Regions from separate parts of the Homo sapiens genome. Here region 1 is linked to region 2. Evidence: fine-mapped expression QTL. A gene starts in region 2. The other region holds a variant in brackets. All regions are shown on one strand. Distances are between the middles of the regions. Region 1 overlaps MCF2 (MCF.2 cell line derived transforming sequence). Region 2 holds the start of MCF2 (MCF.2 cell line derived transforming sequence).

What was found.
Region 1: its variant is fine-mapped to the expression of MCF2 in whole blood (TOPMed, PIP 0.95).

The regions. Positions count from the first base shown.
Region 1 is chrX:139,583,981-139,592,329 of GRCh38, reverse strand. It overlaps MCF2 (MCF.2 cell line derived transforming sequence), which reads left to right. Exons shown (of 29, transcript NM_001171876.2): 24 at 2,403-2,495; 25 at 3,892-3,970; 26 at 4,542-4,614; 27 at 5,843-5,952; 28 at 7,152-7,264. Among named protein-coding and RNA genes, the nearest start is that of F9, 57 kb to the right of the region's middle. The variant G/T (reference allele first, on the strand shown) is at 3,568.
Region 2 is chrX:139,704,233-139,712,581 of GRCh38, reverse strand. MCF2 (MCF.2 cell line derived transforming sequence) reads left to right here and starts at 4,415. Exons shown (of 29, transcript NM_001171876.2): 1 at 4,415-4,476.

The DNA.
Region 1 (8,349 bases), 120 kb after region 2:
AAACAGAGAAGGTGGGATAGATTCAAGAAACATTTCAATAGAAGGTAGACAGATGGGCTTGATGACTTACTAGCTACAAAAATTAAATAATACCTGACATTGAAGGAAGAAAATCTTTCTGATTCTTCTTTGGTTCCCCAGTAATGCCAAGTATCCTTAATAAACAATATTAGCCAGTGATGCCTACAAGGCTTTAGACCAGGATTACTTGGAAAATGGTGATACCACTAAAAATTAGGATATTTCTTAGGGTTCACTACGCTCACTTCTGCTTGCCTGCTTATCATGAGATTCCAGCATTAAGCAATTGCTAGCATTCCTAGTCAATGTGTTATTTAAGAATCTGGGTTATTAGTTTCACAGTCTTACCCTTGGTAGAGAGGATCATTGCAGATATTCCACTGCTGAACCTTCTCTCTCACTTTTTTTTTTAACTTTTATTTTAGATTCAGGGGGTACATCTGCAGGTTTGTTACCTGGCTGTATTGCATGATGTTTAGGTTTGGGGCACAAATATCCCATCACCCAGGTACTGAGCATTGTCCCCAAGAGTTAGTTTTCCAACCCTTGTCCCTCTCCCTCCGTCCCTCCTCTGGTAGTCCCCAGTGTCTGTTGTTGCCTTTGTCTATGTCTCTCACTTTAAATGAACTCTTGTTTTGACTGCACCATACAAAGCTGGGATCCCATGGCCTGACCATGTACTTTCTAATTATTTATATGTTATATTTTAAGTTGGCTGCTTATATGCAAGGAAAGGCCCTATCTAAAGTCAAAGTTGACCAGATGGGGAGATTCGAGTCCTTCAGATTCCTTAGTTCATGTGTTTATTATCATCGATTTTTAAAAATTTTACAAATTGCACATAGTCCTTACTATGTGCAACACATAATGGTTAGATTTCCAGGGCAACTTAGAAAAGTTCACTTAATTGATAATGATGTACTATATGTTTGCAATAAAAAAATAACAAAACAATTGCAACTTAAATAGGGGAAAGAGTAGAAAGCAAACTCACACTTTAGAAAGCTCATTATAGGATCTAAGCATTTACTCCATGCTATTTAGTCCTTATATCAACCCTATGAAATAGGTGTTCTTTCTATTTTATAGTTGAGGAAACTGAAGTTTAGAAAAGTTAAGCAACTTGCACCAAGACACATAGCTAGTGAATGGTAGAGATGTATTCCAATCCAGACCTCTCTAACTTCAAAGCCTGTGGGCCTTCCAGCTTATCATGTTATTAAGACAAAACCATGTAATGAAACAAAATTAATTTTTAAAAATATTGAATATGAGATTACTATTCATCTTAAATTGTGATATTTGAGCAGAAGTAGGTTAGTTGGAATGATGGAGTGAGAATATAAAGATAGTTTGGGACATTGTGAAAATAACTTCTTACTACGTTCAGGGTGGATGTTACAGGTTCTTTCATTAATATGTTATGTTAAATTACATTTCTAAGCATAAGTGCTTTTCTTCTCCTTGGTATGGCGATCTCCCTAGCACTATCTTTAATGCTTATTAGCTCTAATAAGGGCCATTTGGGGGGCTCATAACTAGAACAGAGAGTGAGATACTCCTTTAGATAATTAGGTTAAGAATTGAAAGAAAAGAGGAAGGCAGAAAGGAACTAAAAGAATGTTTGTGCAAAGGAGTGAGATTGCCCAAAATGCAATTAGCCAAGCTGTTAGCAGAAAATGATGAAAGAAAATGGAAGAGTTTATGACTTGCACAATCACGCTGAGGAAAAGAAAAAATTGTGGTAAGGAATAAGGAAGAGATATTGTGTACAGAAGTTTCACTGGGTACAAAAAGACAACAATGTCCCATTACATATTATTATTATTATTTTTTTTTTAGAAAGGCCAAGGGATTGGTGGAAAATAGAGAGATCCTTGTGTACCTGGCTGGTTCTCTCCTGTCCCATGAATTAGATGTTTATAACTTGTAGGACTTCTATCAAAATAAATTATAATTTGTAGGATTAAGTGGTCTGTCAAATGATTATTCTAAATAACTATTTAAATTAATTTTCAGTGGCTTTTCTTTATTGATGTTTAATGACTTCTGTGTTTGACTCAATAATTTGTTTTAATAGTGTACTATTAATTTATAACATAATTAGATCTTAGATGGGCTACTTGGATGTTCAGATTTATAACATTTGTGTCAACCACTGAAATGAAGCGTGCAATCTGAACTATAAAGTGCATAGTTCAATGAAAACATTTAAATACTCTCGTCTATGATTGTAATTACTATTTCATATTCATTTAATATAACATGTATTTTTCTGCCCAAGAGAAATTCTGTTTCACTTAGAATATGATAGGGTAGATTTAATGTAATTTCATATTCAAAATAAAATGCTCATGAAAATTTTGACTTATTTATTATAGATGGATGAAGTTGGAATCACTGAATATGTAAAAGGTGATAACCGCAAGTTTGAAATCTGGTATGGTGAAAAGGAAGAAGTTTATATTGTCCAGGTTGGTCATTTGAAAATTCTTCTAGAAACCCAAACCTGCATTGAAATACAAAAGCCCGAATTTATAAACAAAAATAATTTTGGTCGCATTTCAAAATTTCCACCCCTTTCATGTAGGTCAGTTAAATATTATTTGAATATTCTTTGTGATGTATTTAAATGTTTTCTAGTAGTTACATTGAGATATGCCTGTGGTGTTCTCTAGGGCTTCAAGTTTTCACAACTACATAAGAGACTTATCAACTAGAGCTGACAGCTTGGCAGGTACTTCTCTGTCCCCATCAAATTTCCAAGTTATGGAATTATAATAGTTCTGAGTTCCTCTTATGCTAAGCATTCTAGGGGTACCTGATTATGAGACATGGGGATGTGACAGTTCAGACTTGCTTTCTGCTTCTAAAGAACATGGTTAAAGCCCTGGCCAGTTGTATAGGGTCCAACATGTTTCAGGGAAGGGAAGAGGAATCAGAACATTTCAAGAGGATGTTGTCATTGCAATAAATATTTGTATCTGGAGTTGTCAATGTGCTGTTATCTGTTAAAAATGCTCAGTGTTTTTTGTTTGTTGTAATTCTTTACTAGGTGACTGCAATCTATAAAAATATGTTTTCTTGGCTTGCTTAAGATATAATATTTGGTATCATTTAACAAACATCTTGTAAGTGATGGGAGGATATTTAAGGAGGATTTCATGTTACCATCAGTCACCAAGGTTATTCTGCAATAGATGGCCTTTTCAGAAATAGTAGAGCTTGTTTTATTTTACTAAAATTAAACATCAAAATGTTATATTTTAAAAAGAATCCTCCTGTAAAGACAAAATAAGTGAAATTATATTTCACAGTTTCATCCAAGCATTATTTTACCATTATTTAAGGGCAATTTCAAAATGGATTTTTTTTTTTTGAGACAGCGTCTCACCCTGTTGCTCAGGCTGGAGTGCAGTGGTGTGATCTCGGCTCACTTCAACCTCTGCCTCCCAGGCTCAAGCGATTCTCCCACCTCACCCTCTCAAGTAGCTGGGACTACAGGCACATGCCACCACACCTGGCTAATTATTATTATTATTATTA[G/T]TAGTAGTAGTAGTAGTAGAGATGGGGTTTCCCTATGTTCCCCAGGCTGGTCTCAAACTCCTGGGCTCAAGAGATCTGCCCACCTTGGCCTCCCAAAGTCCTGGGATTACAGCAAAAATGGTTCTGACTGTATTATTTCATCTAATCTGATAGCAAATTATTTGCTTCATAAAAATTTTAACAATCAAACGGTTAAGATTTGAGTATGGTGTTATAGGGAGTAGATCATATTTTATGTACACAATTACATTTGTTTTATTATAGTACATCCTTTTTAAAAGGAAATGTGTACCACCTCCCTCCCGCTTTTTTTTTAATCTTTAGGCTTCTAATGTAGATGTGAAGATGACGTGGCTAAAAGAAATAAGAAATATTTTGTTGAAGCAGCAGGAACTTTTGACAGGTAAATTCAAGCCTGCATTCTTCAGAACAAGAAGTATAGTAACAGCTTATTGACTCAGATTTTTAAATTATTTTTCCAGAGAATGGGGCTGATATTTACTTTATACTATTACAATGAGAAGATTTGTTAATTTAATTAGTAGGAGATTGAGATTCAGAGGATTGTTTAAACTATTTTGAAGAATGAACTTTACACTAGAAAATGAACCCTTGTGCTTAAGAAGCAGTTGAGAAGCAACACAGTGAACTGATTGTGGTAATCCCCAGTCCTTTCCATGAGGTGACTCTGCTTAATATCTCGAGTAATCATTGCTCTATAATGATGGAATGGGAGCCAGTTCTACTTCTAAACTTGAACTTCTTGAATAAAATATTATATGGTCCAGACCTTTCCAAATTCAAACTTGAGACTGGCCTTCCCTCTGATTATTTCAAGTCTGTGAAGCTTAAGTCTAATGGCAAGGATGCGTGTGTGTGTGTGTGTGTGTGTGTGAGAGAGAGAAAGTCATTGGCCTTCAAGGAAGTAAGAAGTGTGACTTCTGAATGATAATATGCTTTGTTTTATTTCTCAGTTAAAAAAAGAAAGCAACAGGATCAATTAACAGAACGGGATAAGTTTCAGATTTCTCTTCAGCAGAATGATGAGTAAGTGATTATTCTTTAAGAAATACCACTCCTGCAATCTTTTGTTTTCTGTATGTAACATGAAGCAATGTAATTAAAGTATCTCTGACAAGAACCATCCACCAATTTAGCAATAACTCATCAAATTCCATAAACATCATTTTCTGAGGTCCAGCCTTATACTGGAGGCTGATAGTTCTTAATAGTTATCCCTTGGGTTGATTTCTAAACATGATTGAAAATGCTTTATTTTTAATATATCATTGGAAGAATTACATGTAGGCTGACAGGAAAGGAGGCTGTGCTCATAAGCTTTTTTTTTCAAAGTATTTTTGGTCACCTTTGATCTGACTGGAAAAAGAGGGTTGTAAGAATATGGGAATAGAGCAAATGAAGGACTGGCTCACAGTTTTACAGTCCCTTGATGGGGACCTCTTGCTGGTGATTTGGCCTCTCTCTACATAGAGAGAAGGTATGGATCCTGGGAGGGAACTGAGCCTGGACACAACCAGGAGTCATTAAGGAAGCCTCTAGAAATTCCAAAAGGTGGAGTTCTCGCTGAACATTTGCATATATACAGAAAGAATTCTCTCATTGATTCTGAAGGCCTGGCACAGAGATTCACCACACAGCATCTGCTTGCTGTGGTGATCATTGAATGACTTATTAGAAATACTGTTTTTTCCTTCGCTGCATGTCATCTTTCTGAGGTAGCTAAAATCAGATGAAACATATGGTGGTTCACGTGGAGATTTAGGAGAACCATTTAAAAGTTGCAGATAAAGTCTTTATCTTTCAGAGTTCAAAAAGCTCCATCTTTTATCGTACATTATAGGAGTAACATCTTTAGGTTTTATGCAGTAATTGACTTAATAGTAGCTGGTACATACTCAACAATATGAATCAGTTGAAGGTTTCATCTTCATTTATATACAACAACTTACCTAATTCATTAATGTTATAAGTCCACAGAGCAACGGGGATTGTATACAATACCCTTACTTTGGGTCTAGAAGGGAGTAGTTTTTCTCCTTACATAATAGAGAACCTGCTGGCTTGGATCTGAGATTTAAGCTTTTGTATATTATAACCTATTGCCACACAGATTTAAATAGGGAGTATTGGCTGTTTGGATGGATTCTCAGCATGTTCTTAACACTTGGTATCAATGGAAGAAATACCACTTTAAATTTCTTTTTACTTGTAAACTGTACAAAAGCTCACTTAGTTTTATACATCACTATTTCAGAAAGCAACAGGGAGCTTTTATAAGTACTGAGGAAACTGAATTGGAACACACCAGCACTGTGGTGGAGGTCTGTGAGGCAATTGCGTCAGTTCAGGCAGAAGCAAATACAGGTATGTGTCATGGTCATCTTAAGACGAGACTCATGGGTGTGCAAATTTTTACCTCGTATTATTAATTTGGAAATCTACCCACTTGGTATTTTTGTATAAACAAAATACAGTTAACCCATTTTTATAAGGCTCTCATGTCTTGCATATGCAGGACACTCTGATGGGCACTAGAGAGTATTGGTTGTCAAAGTGTGGTCCCTGGACCACTAGAATCAACATCACCTGGAAACTTTTACAGAAGACAAATTCTCTTGCTCTATTCAGACCTTCTGGATCAGAAACTCTGGGAACAAGGCCCAGCCACTTGAGTTTTAACAGGCTCTCTCTGTGATTTTGATGCATGGTCAAGTTTGGGAACCCCTGCTATAAAGGATATAGTGATGAATAAAACATATATACTGGCTTCAAGGAATGCGCATTTCACTTACCGTTGGTTTAATGAATAGAGAAGAGTCATTAACAGCCGAAATATTTATTCTTCCTCTGTGAATGGTTTTATTTGAAGTGATTTTAAATACTTTATTTAATTCAACAAATATTGACATAGCATGATCTGCATTCCAGGAGTTATGCAAAGTGCTAGGCATATAGTCTAACTAGGATACACTCAGCTGCCATCCTCATGAAGCTAGGAGAATAGAAAGATAGTTAAACAAGCAATTAAAAGTAAATTTGGCGAGTGTTACAGCAGGGAAGTACGAAGTGCTGTAGAAGCATACATGAGGATCACCTAAACAACTCTAGGATCAACAGCATAGACTTCTTTGGAGAAATGCCTAACAGAGTGCCTGATACTCAACACTTTAATATGATGATCCTTAATATGGAAGAGTTCTCTACTGGTTGAGGAGAAAAAGGTAATGATAGCCTTGTAGAGTTTCCATTTATCCAATTAAAGGTCACTTCCCTCAGGTCATCTATGCTGTGGCCCCCAAAGAAGTAAGGAGAGAGCATAGTACTAATGCCTTCATTTGACAGGTGAGGAAACCAAGTTAGAAAAAGATGACAATGACTTTTCCCAGGTTGCATGAATAGTTTAATGTGGCCAGGATGAGATCTGTTAATTTGCTGCTTACATTAGATTGGTTAATCCATTTTTTTAAATTCAACTTTTTAAAGGATTACAGCTAGTTTTACTTCTCACCTTGTGGTAAATTAGCACCATGAAGTAACTGCCACATTCCACACTTTTCTTATAGTTTGGACTGAGGCATCACAATCTGCAGAAATCTCTGAAGAACCTGCGGAATGGTCAAGCAACTATTTCTACCCTACTTATGATGAAAATGAAGAAGAAAATAGGCCCCTCATGGTTAGTAATAATATAGTAAATTAAAATTATTGAGGCAGTTTTACTGATGAAATATAGGTGGAGCACATAGGGGCAATCTTTTGTCAGCATCCTTGAGGCCATTAGGAGTAAGCCATTGCTAAAATAGTTGAAATAAATCTTATTATGAACATCAGGAAGCACTTCTGTCTTTAAGTAGAACCTGTTTGACCTATACATAGAGCTTCTGCTGATGTTGATGAAATAGATAGTCAATCTTTCCAAATCTCTAAAATCCCAGTTTTATCTTTAGTAGAGCTTCACCACTGTGTTTTCCATCCAGGCATGTGAAATAAAATCAGAGAACAAAGGGGCTTCAAATACACTTTAAAAACCAGTTTGGATTCCAGATTAGAAAATAAAGGAAATAAGCATTATACATTAAAAACGATTTAATAACATCTGGGGGATATATTTTAGTGTGTTCTCAAAAATACACTAATGATATAAAATCTCAGCATATTAGAGCAAGGGAGCACCCTGTAAAATTAAAGGAGGTTGCTTTAAGGTTAAAGTGTTTATAGAAGGAATAGTTTGCAAGTTGGTAGGATACCAGTGGGCTATTAAAGAGGAGGTAGGACTGTTTGGGAGTAAATCCCTACTTTTCTAAAGTCACCAGCTTGGAAGGTAGGAGTGATGCTTGGAGGTAGAGTGCTCCTTGGTGCCCTTCAGAGGAATCAATTACATTTGGCAGTTCTACTGTTAGTATAAGAGGGTAAACCTCGTCTCTACTAAAAATACAAAATTAGGCGGTTGTGGTGGCGCATGCCTGTAATCCCAGCTATTCAGGAGGCTGAGGCAGGAGAATCGCTTGAACCCAGGAGGTGCAGGTTGCAGTGAGCTGAGATAGTGCCCTTGCACTCCAGCCTGGGCAACAAGAGCGAAACTCTGTCTCAAAAAAAAAAAAAAAAAAAAAAAAGGATAATGGCATGGATAATCACAAAGCTGTACAGCATTGACTCTGAAATGCAGTCTTTAAAAAAGTAGATATTGTTTCTCCTAATACTATGATGACCATAATACATATTTGTGTGATAGTTTACCGTTTCCCAAATGATTTCTCAATT
Region 2 (8,349 bases):
AAGACAAGTTAACAAGTAACTCTGTCCTTTTGGTACAAGAAACAAACCAGAAAGCAAACAAAACCCATAAAAACTATTTGTTCAAATTGTGAAAACTATCTTGCATTATTATATTGTAAGAATAAGTTTAGAAAACTGTTGCACTTCAGGCAAAAGTCCATTTTAATTGACCTGAGGTTTTGCTAAATTCAATAAGAATTTTATTTTTTTCTGATTATACTGACGATACTTGCTCAAAATCAAGCAATACCTAATAATATAAACATAAAAGTCACTTAGTATCACAACCCCCCTGAGGTAACCATATTTTTTTGAATATGTATATGTATATATACACATATACACAACATATATACATATATAATTTTGTATCTATTGAACTATGTTATACACACTATAATTTTAAACCATAAAAAGTCGTATGATTGTTCTATATAAATTAATTCATATATATATGACTTTTAAATAGCTGTGTGGCATTTCATTTATTTCATGCACATGGTTTAACTATTTCCTAGTTTATTATATAAATTTCTCCTCCTCCTCTTGCCTGCTATTATGAATAACATGGCAATGTATTCTGTACAAAAATATTTCCATTCCTGCCCGAGTAGCTTCTTGGTGTAAAGTCAAAAATGTGGAATTCCTGGGGCAAAAGATATGTACATGACAAACTGTCTTTGAGAAAAGCTATATGAATCTGTGCCCGCAACAACAGTCAGCCAGTTTACCCTCCCCATTCTCAGCATTAAGTGCTCTCCATCTTTAATCATTCCTCATAGATCTGGGGTCAGCAACCCAGTCAGCATCTTTAGGGCTGTAGGGAAAAAAAGGTAATGAAGAATGTCTGACCAAGACTATATGTGGCCCACAAAGGGGGACATTTCTATTATCTTAGCTGTTTACAGAAAAAAAAATTTGCCAACTCCTGGATTAAAGGAAAAATAGTGTTTACTCTTGGTAATATTAGCTTTTCTTTGCTTATTTGTGAGTTCCAATAGATTTTCCATGTACATGTGGGTGTTTATATTTCCTCTTTTGTCAATTACACTTCCTTCACCCATTGTCCTATTAAGTTGCTCACCTTTTTTACTCATTATAATTCTGTATATTAGAATATGTGCATGTTGTCATGTATTTCACAAATATTTTTCTCTGTGTCAATTAATCATTAAGAATGTATCTTTTATATTGCACAGAAAGTTTTAGTGTTTATGCAATCAAAGCAAATATTCCGAGAATGATAGCAGGTGCTACTTTAGATATGGTAGTAAAAGAAGTTCTCTCTGACAAGGTGACATTTGAGCAGAGAACTGAATTAAGTGAGAGAGGGAGCCATTCATATATATGGATGAAGGGGAATCCAGGCCATGTGAACAGCAAATGCCCAGACCCCAAGATAGGAGCTTTCATGGCATATTGGAGGTACTGCCAGGAGGTCACTGTGACCAAAATGGAGGGAGATTGGTAGGAGTTGAAATTAGGTATGGAAGGATGAGAGCATGTAGAGCTGTGTAGACTATGATAAGGACATTAGATTTGATTCTGAATTCCAGTAGAAGTCTGGAATATTATGAACAGAGGAGTGACATAATCTCACTTAAGTTTTAAAAGGATCACTTCTATTTTTGGTATCTTTTAAAAATATGTGTTATATTTTCTTGTTGTAAAGTAAATGCATGTCCATTTTCAATTATATAGATAACATACAAAAAAGAACCAAGTAAGGATGATAGTATTTTAATAAGCTTTTCTGGATATATATATTTACCTTTATCTACATATATTAAGGTTGGGACATACCTTAAAGATCTTCTGGCCCAGAAATAAATCCAGGCATTTATGGTCAACTGTTCTTCAAAAAAGTTGCCAAAAACACACAATGGAGAAAAGACAGCCTCATCAATAAATGGTGTTGGGAAAACTGGATATACACATGCAAAACAATGAAATTAGACACATCTCACACCATGTGCAAAAATCAACTCAAAATGGATTAAAGACTTAAAGGTAAGACCTCAAACTGAATGTTCTCACCACAAAGATATGACAAATATATGAGGTCATGGATATGCTAATTACCCTGATTTCATCATTATACAGTGTATACATGTATTAAAACATCACACTGCACTCCATAAATTTTATATATATATATATATATATATATACATATGTATGTATTTGCTATGTGTCAATTCAAAATAAGTAACATAGAAGAAAAGTTTCTTGACATTAGTCTAGGCAGAGATTTTTTGGATATGACCCCAAAAGCACAGACAACAAAAGGAAATATAGACAAATGGGATAGCATTAAACTAAAAAGTTTTCTGTACATCAAAGGAAACAACTGAGTCAAAAGACCATCTATGGAATGGGAAAAATACTTACAGACCATACATCTGATAAGTGGTTAATACCCAAGATATATAAAGAACTCAACTCAATAGCAAAAAGTAGTAAATAACCCAATTAAAAATGGTCAAAGAACCTGAGTAGACATTTCTTAAAAAGAAGACATACAAATGGCCAACCAGTATATGACAAAATGTTCAACATCACTTATCATCACAAAAATGCAAATTAAAACCACATTTAGATAACATTTTGCACCTGTTAGGGTAGCAATTATCAAAAACATAAGATAACAAGTGCTTGTGAGGATGTGGAGAAAAGGGAGCCCTTGTTGGTGGGAATGTAAATTAGCACAGCCACTATGGAAAACAGTATGAATGTTCTGGCCCAGAAAAAATCCAGGCATTTATGGTCATATTATCAATTACCATATGATCCAGCAATGCCACTACTGGGTATATATCCAAAGAAAATGAAATCAGTCTGTCAAAGAGATATCTACACTCCCATGTTCATTGCAGCACTCTTCACAATAGCCAAGATATGGAAGCAACCTCAAGAAAATATTTTTTATATATACTGTATATATATATATATATATATATATATATGAATGATAGCATTCGTGTCTATATAGTGTATATATATACGAATAGCATTCGTATATATAGTATATGCTATATATGCTATGTATATAGTATATGCTATATATGCTATGTATATAGTATATGCTATATATACTATATACATAGTATATATAGCATATACTATATACATAGTATATGCTATATATACTATGTATATAGTATATGCTATATATGCTATGTATATAGTATATGCTATATATGCTATGTATATAGTATATGCTATATATGCTATGTATATAGTATATGCTATATATGCTATGTATATAGTATATGCTATATATACTATACTATATATACACAAATGCTATTCAGCCTTTAAAAAAGAATGAAATTCTGTCATTTGTGACAGTACGGATGAACCTAGTGGACATTATGCTAAGTGAAATAATCCAGACACAGAAAGAAAAATACTGTATGATCTCACTCCTATGGGGAATCTAAAAAAGTCAAACTCATAGAAGTAGAAAGTAGAATGGTGGTTTCCAGAGGATGGGGCAGGGTTTTGGGAGATGTTGGTCAAAGGATGCATCATTACACGTAGACAGGAGGACAAAGATCAAGAGATCTATTTTTTAATTTTTAAATTTTTTTTCATATTTTTATTTGTATATATTTTTTGAGATGGAGTCTTACTTTATTGCCCAGGCTGGAGTGCAGTGGTGTGATCTCAGCTCACTGCAACCTCTGCCTCTTGGCTTCAAGCGATTCTCCTGCCTCAGCCTCCTGAGTAGGTGGGATTACAGGTGTCCGCCATCACACCCAGCTAATTTTTGTATTTTTAGTAGATATGAGGTTTCACCATGTTGGCCAGGCTTGTCTCGAACTCGTGACCTCAAGTGATCCACCCACCTCGGCCCCCCAAAGTGCTGGGATTACAGGTGTGAGCCGCTGCGCCCTGCCAAGAAACCTATTGTACATCATGATAACTATAGTTAATAACAATATATTGTGTACTTGAAAACTGCTAAGAGAGTAGATTTTACATGTTCCCACCACAAAAAGGATACATATGTGAGGTAAAGAAAGTATTAATTAGCTTGATTTAGCCATTCCAGGATGTATACATACATCAGAAATCATATTGTACACCATACAATTTTTATTTGTCGTGTACAAAAAAAGATATGCCCAGCTTCTTCTGCATTTTGTGCAGAAGTATTTTGTTTTCAAACTGTCGGGCTAACTCTTGAGTGGGCGTTCTGTTTCTCCAGATTTGTCCTTGTAAATAAAAAAAAAAATTAGGTCTCCTTCCTCTACTGTGATACAGTGTATGATTTATAATTTTGTTTCTGGGTTCTACTTCAAGTCAAGGCTTCTCTACACTTTCAGTTGCTGACATCAGATTGGCTTTGAAACTTTTTTTCATGTTAAGAGCAAGAAGGCTTTTGTTCTTGGAGCAGGCAGAGAGTATTGTACATTCTTTTGGCCGAGGAAACAGAATGAGCTGCGACAGTCTTAAGGACAAACATTTGTGGTAAGTATTTCTTTACCTTAGAGTAATATAAGAAATGGATTGGGGCAATGAGTGGGTCAGTCTTGGAATATTTTTATAGATAGCATCCCCCATAGCCAGTCATTTTCATTCTTGTAGTAGTTTCCCCTTTTCCCCAGAATCCCCCATTTCTAGGACCAATGATTTGCAGGACACAGTGCAGTTCTTGTAAAGGTGTATCTGTCCATACAGACCGCAATAGCCTGCTTTGGGTTTCTCTGACAGTTCTTTGTCTACTGTTCAGTTTTTTCTAAAATAATTAGGATTCCCAAGTAAAGGCAGGTGGGAATTTCTCAACTCTGGATTAGAACTTCACCACTGTAAACCTGGAACTATTAGTATAACAAATCTGGTGTGCACCTGGGCTTCATGGGATGGCTGTACCTTGGTGTGGTTCCTATGCAATGTATGGGCCTCAGTCTCTGAGCCGTCTAGGGATTAGGACTTGAGAAATTGCCTTGTGAACTTGCATATGGTTGGCTTATAAATTTGGACAGCAGATTATTTATTTTCAGTGGGTAAAAGACCATTCCATTATTTGTGTCCAGTTCTTTTTAAGCACGCAAATTTTCCAGACCAAGAAGAACTACCTTGGTCCCCAGAAGGTAGCCGGGGGGATGTAGACTTGGAGAGCAAAGAAAAATGGGAGGTCTTGAGGGCAATCTTCCAAAAGAATATGGTGATGTTTCTCACATTTTTTAAAGCAGGGTCTCTAGTGAGGCAAAACCACATTTTATTCTTGCCTCTATAGTATTTATTTGTGGAGGTAGAAAGTTTCTGGGGAAGGAGTGGGACTGTTTATATGAAGAACCTAGAGGTCTTCTCAGAATGAAAGGATTGGAAACTCCAACCCTTTTTTTCTCTGATATGCAAGGTTCTTGAAAGTTGCTTGAGGGGCCCAAAAAGATCCTAAGGAAAACTCACCAAACTTGGTGAGAAAGAGGTAGAAAGGGATGGGAGCAGCTCCCTCCCAGAGCCCTCCATCCTTCTTTTTTCATCTGAGCTGGTTACTCTGCCGGCTAGCTGCACATCTCTTTCTGAAATTCCCTTTGTCTGTGCTCCTGTATCGGATCATTATTTCCTAGATTCATTGTCTTGCTCTTCATTGATGTACTTCATCATTTTTTTGGGGAATACATTCTCTACTAACTTCTTTATATGGGTTATAAACTTTTATTAATAATAATAATAATAATAATTATGTCTGAAAATATCTTAGACAACCTTTATTTTTGTTTGAGAGTCTGACGCAGTATAAAGTTCCAAGCTGAAAAACCTTTTCCCCCCTGATTTTGTGTTTATTTTTCCATTAGTTTGTAGAATCCAGTGTTGCTATTGAGAAGTTCAATGTCATTTTGTTTCATTTTTTTTCAACTTTAATTTTAGATAAGGGGGTACATGTGCAGATTTGTCATATGGGAATATTACATGATGCTGAGGCTTAAGGTACAGATCCTGTCATCCTGGTAGTGAGCATAGTACCCAATAGTTGTTTTTTTTTTTATCCTCCCCACCTCCCTGCACCCTCTAGTAGTCCACAATATCTGTTGTTCCCATATTAATGTCCATGTGTGCTCAATGCTTAGCTCCCTTCATAAATGAGAACATGTGGTATTTGGTTTTCTGTTCCTGCACTAACTTGCTTAGAATTATGGCCTCCAGCTCCGTGCATGTTGCTGCAAAGAATGATTTCTTTCTTTTTTATGGCTGCCTAGTATTCCATAATGTATATGTAGCACATTTTCTTTATCCCATTTACCACTGATGGGAACCTGGGTTGACTCCATGTCTTTGCTATTGTGAACAGTGCAGTGATGAACATACAAGTGCATGTGTCTTTTTGGTAGAATAATTTCTTTTGGGTACATACCCAGTAATGGGATTGCTGTGTCCAGTGGTAGAATTGTTTTAAGTTCTTTCAGAAATCTCCAGACTGCTTTCCACAGCGGCTGGACTAATTTACATTTCCACCAACAGTGTATAAGTGTTTGCTTTTCTCTGCTGCCTTGCCAGCCAGCATCTGTTGTTTTTTGACTTTTTAGTAATAGCCATTCTGACTGGTGTGAGATGGTATCTCATTGTGGTTTTGATTTGCATTTCTCTGATGATAGTGATGCTGAGTATTGTTTCATATATTTGTTGGCCATTTGTATGTCTTCTTTCGAAAAGTGCCTGTTCATGTCATTTGCCCACTTTTTAATGGTGTTATTTGGTTTTTACTTGTTAATTTTTTCAAGTTCCCTATAGATTCTGAGTATTAGACCTTTGTCAGATACATAGTTTGCAAATATCTTCTCCCATTCTGTAGGTTGTCTGTTTGCTCTGCTGATAGTTTCTTTTGCTGTACAGAAGCTCTTTAGTTTAATGAGGTCCCACTGGTCTATTTCTGGTTTTATTGCAATTGCTTTTAGGGACTTAGCCAAAAATTCTTTACCAAGGCCAATGTCGAAAAGAGTATTTCCTAGGTTTTCTTCCAGGATTTCTATAGTTTGAGATCTTACATTAAAATCTTTAATCCATTTTTAGTTAATTTTTGCATATGGAGAAAGGTATGGGCCCAGCTTCAATCTTCTGCATATGGCTAGCCAGTTATCTCAGCACCATTTACTGAATATGGAATTGTTTTCCCACTGCTTGTTTTGGTTGGCCTTGTCAAAGATCAGATGGTTGTAGCTGTGCAGCTTTATTTCTGAGTTCTCTATTCTGTTCCATTGGTCTATGTGTCTGTTTTTGTACCACTACCAAGCTGTCTTTATTTGTTTGTTTGTTTGTTTTTGAGACTGAGTCTCACTCTGTCGCCTAGGCTGGAGTGCAATGGTGTGATCTCAGCTCACTGCAACCTATGCCCCTGGATTCAAGCAATTCTCCTGCCTCAGCCTCCCCAGTAGCTGGAATTACAGGTGCCCGCCACCACGCCTGGCTGATTTGTGTATGTTTTAGTAGAGATGGGGTTTCACCATGTTGGCCAGGCTGGTTTCAAACTCCTGACCTCAAGTGATCTGGCCACCTCAGCCTCCCAAAGTGCTGGGATTACAGATGTGAGCCACTGTGCCCAGCCACCCAAGTTGTTTTGTTTACTGTGGCTTTATAGTGTAGTTTGAAGTTGGGTAGTGTGATGCCTCCGTCTTTGTTCTTTTTGCTTTGGATTGCTTTGGTTATTTGGGCTCTTTTTTGGTTTCATGTGAATTTTAGAATAGTTTTTTTTTTTTCTAATTGTGTGAAGAATGCCATTAGCAGTTTGATAGGAATAGCACTGAATCTGTAGATTGCTTTGGGCAGTATGGCCATTTTTATGATATTGATTCTTCCAATCCATGAACATGGAATGTTTTTCCATTTATTTGTGTCATTCCTGATTTCTTTCATCAGTGTTTTGTAGTTCTCTTTGTGGAGACTTTTCACCTCCTTGGTTAGGTGTATTTCTAGGTATTTCATTTTCTTTGTGGCTGTTGTGAGTGAGACTGTGTTCTTTATTTTTGTTTAATTTTTCATTTCCACAGGTTATTGGGGAACTGGTGGTGTTTTGTTACATGAGTAAGTTCTTTAGTGGTGATTTTTGAGATTTTGGGGACTGTGTTCTTGATTTCACTCTCAGCCTGGATGTTGTTGATGCATAGAAATGGTACTGATTTTTGTACATTAATTTTGTATCCTGCAACTTTACTTAAGCTGTCCAAATTTATAAGCCAATCATATGCAAGTTCACAAGGCAATTTCTAGGAGCCTTTTGGCAGCATCTTTAAAATTTTCTAAGTATAGATTCATATCATCAAGGAAAAGAGATTGTGTGACTTCTTTTCATACGTGGATGCTTTTTATTTCTTTCTCTTGCCTGACTGCTCTGGCTAGGACTTC